Regions from separate parts of the Homo sapiens genome. Here region 1 is linked to region 2. The links come from fine-mapping of genetic effects on gene expression. Tissue or cell type: aorta. Region 2 holds a variant in brackets; the other region holds the start of a gene. All regions are shown on one strand. Distances are between the middles of the regions.

What was found. PIP is the estimated chance that this variant, and not a neighbour inherited with it, causes the effect.
Region 1: it holds the start of CHDH, and the variant in region 2 is fine-mapped to the expression of CHDH in aorta (GTEx, PIP 0.90).

The regions. Positions count from the first base shown.
Region 1 is chr3:53,845,262-53,847,921 of GRCh38, reverse strand. CHDH (choline dehydrogenase) reads left to right here and starts at 1,503. Exons shown (of 9, transcript NM_018397.5): 1 at 1,503-1,839. It overlaps IL17RB (interleukin 17 receptor B), which reads right to left and starts at 1,354. Exons shown (of 11, transcript NM_018725.4): 1 at 1,274-1,354. The coding sequence starts at 1,333. RefSeq lists enhancers at 1,306-1,600, 1,547-2,387, 2,388-2,660 and a silencer at 1,306-1,955.
Region 2 is chr3:53,905,594-53,908,436 of GRCh38, reverse strand. No RefSeq gene overlaps it. Among named protein-coding and RNA genes, the nearest start is that of SELENOK, 15 kb to the right of the region's middle. The variant C/T (reference allele first, on the strand shown) is at 1,300.

The sequences.
Region 1 (2,660 bases), 60 kb after region 2:
AAACACCTTCTAAGATCTCCTTTTGATGGTTTGAATGATTTGAGTTTGGGCAAAATTGTCAATCATTTATTTGTCTTTTAAAAAATGAACTCTAAGGGATATCATCAGATTTTTTTTTCCTTTTTCTGAGACAGAGTCTCACTTTGTCACCCAGGCTGGAGTACAGTGGCGCAGATCTCGGCTCACTGCAACCTCTGGCTCCCGGGTTCAAGTGATTCTCCTGCCTCAGCCTCCGGAGTAGCTGGGATTACAGGCGCCTGCCACCATGCCCGGCTACTTTTTGTATTTTTAGTAGAGACGGGGTTTCACCATGTTAGCCAGGCTGTTCCCAAACTCCTGACCTCAGGCAATCCGGCCGCCTCAGCCTCCCAAAGTGCTGGGATTACAGGCGTGAGCCACCGAGCCCGGCCAGACTTGACTTTTTTTTTTTTTTTTTAACAAATGAGCCATCATACCAGGAGCTGAGTTCTTATCAAACGGCCGGTGAGAGGCCAAGCAACAACCCTAAATGCTACCAAGCTCAAATTGTTGGCCTTGCAGCAACTACAGCAAAAGGGATGAATTCTTCCCTTTAGTGCAAAGAGCCAAGAGGGCTTCTGAACTGACACAGAGGGGAAGGATAGGAGCTGAAGACATCAGGAAACAGTGAATGGGGTTTGTCCACCAGCAGGTGACTACGGAGCTTGATGCTATATGCTATTCTAAGAGGGCAGCGGTATCATTTCAAAGGTTATTTGGGGGATGAGCTATTTTCTCTTCAGTGACCCAGAAGATTCCCTCGATCATTCAGGGTACTGGGGAAGAAAGGCAACTGCCTTCACGAGTGAACATGGCAATCAATATGGCCAAAAAGGGAGGGGGTACTAATGGAGAAACAGTTCTTGTGCCCCAACAGGTGAGCAGACCCCAAGTAACAATAACTACGTGCCAGGCCCTTCGCCGCTAATTGCAGGCCATGTCGTTATACCTTAAGAGACCCTGGTGGGTTCGGTACTGCCCTTCGTTTTACCGTTCGGGACTTGGAACTTGGTGAGCATAAATGACAGAACCAACAGTACAGGGTGGCATCTGAGACCGGGTCTGTCTGATTCCCACGCCCCTGACTCAAGCAACCTGACGCCGATGTCCGGGGCTGCCCTGAGGGTGCAGGCATGCCCCTTGAGCCGGCAGTCCGCGCACGCCTTCGGGGCAGCCTGGACTGGCGGATCAGACGACGTCAGGATCTGGGCTCGAGGGCCGGGAGATGAGGGAAGAGGTGCTGGCGGGGGCTTACCGGCTCTCGGGGTACGGCGCTCCTGCACAGCGCGGCCAGGCTTAGCAGCACGAGCGACATCGCCGGGCCACTGCGCGGGATCCAGGCCACCCGCACGCTGCGCTTTTATCCCGGCGCCGCCGGGCCGCCCCTTCTCGGCTCCGCCTCTCGCAGCGCCGACCCATTCCCGCCACCCGAACAGAGGGCGGGCCCGCTGGCCCCCTCCCAGGCTGGGGCAGGTCGCAGCGCCCTCGCCTGCTGGGGCTCGGAGGGATGGGCCGTGTCCGAGCGCTGGCGGAGCACGGGCCGCCGCGGCGCGCGCCTACCCCCGCGCACACGTGCATGCAGTGAGCCAGGTGCATCAGCTGCACCCGCCCTCGGGCTTCGCGCGCCTCCGCTGGAGCCCAGCTAGCCTCGCGGCTCCGGGGCCGACCGGGTCGGAACTGCTGCGTCCCCATTCCGGACGCAGAGAGCGCGCGGGGCGCCGGCGCCGCCGGTTAAAGTGCCGCGGGGCAGGGGCCGGGCCGCGGCCACCCGCTCCTCCCGCTCCGGTCCCGACTGTCGGGCTCTCGGCCGAGTCGCCCCGGGTGAGTAGCCGCGGAGGCGCCCCGACCACCCCGCAGCAGCGCCGCCCGGCCGCTAGCCCGGAGAGGCCTGGGGGCCGGAGGTTTGGGGCCGGGCTGGACGCCGAGACCCGGGCCCGCTTTACACAATCGCCCCGCCGCGCGAAGCGAAACGGGTGGAACGCAGACTGCCGAAGCTCACTGACTCCTTTGAGGGAGCGAATTCTTTCAGCTACGCGGGGTTAGAGCGGTAGGAGTGCCCGCTGCCCGACCCCAGGCTTTCTGGTAAATGTCTGTTTCCACCAAGTGAGTTCGGACAGCAACACCTGGGGCTCCCAAAGCGGAAGCCGTCAGCACTGGCGATTTGGAGCTGCGGTTCTCAAGTTTCCCTGGCCCGGGATCTCTAGCGCCGCCTAAAATGAGATCCAGACGGCAGGTCCGGGTCAGGCCCGGGATCTGCATTTAACGAGCCTCCACCCACGCCCCCGTAATTCGTGGGTGGGTGGCCCAGGGACCATCCTTTGAGACACAGTGGGTTTGGGGGAAAGTTCACAAAAATCAGCTGGGCTAACAGTGGAGTCACAGAGGCTGGAACTGCTGCTTCAGCCCCCTCGGTTTGCAAACGACAGGGTTGTGGTGACCAACTCAGGGCCATTTAAACTTGTAGGCAGAATTAGCTCCATTCTACAGATGAGAAGACGGAGGCCTAGAGAGGGGTATGGAACTTAGGGGTGTGTTGTCAGCTGGTGAGAGGCTGTACTAAGTCAAGCAGCTGTTTTAGCTGAGGCCCTACTTGTGTGCCAGGCCTGGCCCACCTGCCAGCTTGATTAAGGCTTGCATGGACT
Region 2 (2,843 bases):
TTTCATTCCATTGTAGTTACAAAAAATACTTCGAATGATTCCAATCTTTTAAAAGGTATTAATACTTGCTTTATGGCCTAACATATGTCTATACTGGAGAATGTTCCATGTGTGCTTGAAAAGATATGTGCTCTGCTGTTTTGGCATGGTGTATTCTAGAGAGGTTCGTTAGGTCTAGTTGGTTTAGTGCTGTTCAAGTCTTTCATTCTCTTGTTTATCTCTGTGTATGTCTTCTTGCCAGTATTGAAAGTGGGATGTTGAATTATCCAACTATTATTGTTGTTGAAATGTCTATTTCTTTCCTCACTTTTATCAGTATTTGCTTAATACACTTTTAAAGTCTATTTTGGGGTACATATATGTTTATAATTTTTATACCTTTTTGGTGTATTGATTTATAATACTTATCAAATATCCTTGTTTTCTACTGATAATTTTTGTCTTAAGGTTTATTGTATCTGATATTGGTATAGTGGTTCCAGTTTTCTTTTGGTTACTGTTTGCATGGTATATCTTTTTCCATCCTTTTACTGCCAACTTATTTGTGTACTTAAATCTAAATGTGTCTTTTGTAAGAAACACAGAAATCATTTTTAAAAATGTCTTCTGCCAATCTCTGCCTCTTAATTGAAGTGTTTATTTACATTTAATGTAATTACTGATAAGGCAGAGCTTATTTCTACCATTCTGCTATTTGTTTTCTATATGTCTTATGCCTTTTTGATTTCTACTCCTCCATTACTGACTTCTTTTAATTCCCCTGTTGCTTATTTTATCATATTTTAAAACTTATTTTCTTAGTAGTAGCCCTGGGGATTACAATTAACACCTTAACTTTTAAAACTCTAGTTTAAATTAATGCTAACTTAATTCAAAAATATACAAAAACTTTGCTCCTGTATGGTTCCGTTTCTTCTCCCCCCTTGTGCTGTTACTGTCATATAAATTACACCTTTTTTTACATTGTTTGCCTATCATTACAGATTTTATAATTATTGTTTAATGCACTTATCTTTTAAATTAGTTAAGAGGAAAAAGTTACAAAAATATACTTACACTGTGTTTTTTATTTACCTATGTAGTTACCTTTACTGATTGTAGAGGGGCAAATGGTGGCCGCCTACAAATATGTCCATGTCTCAAACCCCAAAACCTATGAAAATGTTACCTTATTTGAAAAAGAAAAAACAAAAGATCTTTGAAGATGTAAGACAGTTAAGGATTTTGAGATGAGATCATCCAGGTGGGCCCTAAATCTAACAAGTGTCCTTATAATACACACACACAGGAGAAGACAGA[C/T]GCAGAGGAAAGGGTGATGTGAAGACAAGGCAGAGATTGGATTGATGTAACTATAAGCCCAGGAATTCTGGGCAAGCCATAAGAAACTGGAAGAGGCAAGGAATGGGTTCTTCCCTTGAGCCCTGGAAAAAATGTGTCCCTGCCAGATTTTGAATTTCTAGCCTCTAGAACTGTGAGAGAATAAATCTCTGTTGTTTTAAGCCACCCAGTTTGTAGTAATTTGTTACAGCAGCCCTCAGAAACTAACACACCAGTGCTTTTTATTTTTCATGTGGATTTGAGTTATTGCTTACTGTCCTCTCATTTCAGTCTGCATTAATCCCTTTAGTATTTTTTTGTAGGGCAGATTTTAAAGCAATGAATTCTCTCAGGATATGTTTATACAGGAATGTCTTATTTTCTCATTCATTTTTGAAGGATAGTTTTTCTAGATATGGAATTCTTGATTCACAATCTTTTTCTCTCAGCACTTTGAATATATCATCCCACTGCCTTCTGGCCTCCGTGATTTCTGGTGAGAAATCACGTGTTAATCTTATTTAGAATTCCTTGTGTGTGATGAGTCACTTCTCTTTTGCTGCTTTAAAGATTCAACACAGTTTGATTATCATGTATCTAGGTATGGATTTCTTTGGTTTTATTTTATTTGGAGTTATTTTAGGTCTTGGGTGCATAGACAAATATTTTTCATCAAACTTGAACTGTTTTTGGCCATTATTTCTTCAAATATTCTTTATCCCTCTTTCCCACCTCTCTTTTGAGACTCCCATTATGCATATGTTTGTATGACTGATGGTGTCCTACAGGTCTCTAAAAACTGTTCACTTTTCTTCATTCTTTTTTCTTTATGTTCCTTAGATTGGATAATCTCAATCTATCAAGTTCACTGATTGTTTCATCTGCCTGCTCAAGTTTGCTGTTGAGCCACTCTAGTGGATTTTTATTTCAGTTTCTATATTTTCAACTCTAGAATTTCTATTTGGTTCTCTCTTCTTAAACAAAATTTGATCTCTTTATTGATATTTCTATTTGTCAAAACATCAGTCAATCAGTCATACTTTCTTTCTTTTTTTTTTCTTTTTTTTCTTTTTCTTAAACAGCATCTCATTCTGTCGTCAGGCTGGAGTACGGTGGTGTGATCTCAGCTCACTGCAATCTCCACCTCCCAAATTAAAGTGATTCTCCTGCCTCAGCCTCCCAAGTAGCTGGGATTACAGGTGTGCACCACCACACCCAGCTAATTTTTGTATTTTTAGTAGAGACAGGGTTTCACCATATTGGCCCAGATGGTCTCAATCTCCTGACCTCGTGATCCACCTGCCTCAGCCTCCCAAAGTGCTGGGATTACAGACATGAGCCACCATGTCTGGCCTTTTTCATTCTTTAGACATTGCTTGCTTTGCTTCTTTGCTTTGCTTTGCTTCTTTGCCCATAAATCTTTTTTTTCTTTTTTTTTTTTTTTTTTGAGGCAGAGTCTCAATCTGTTATCCAGGCTGGAGTGCAGTGGTACAATCACAGCTCACTGCAGCCTTGACCTCCCAGGC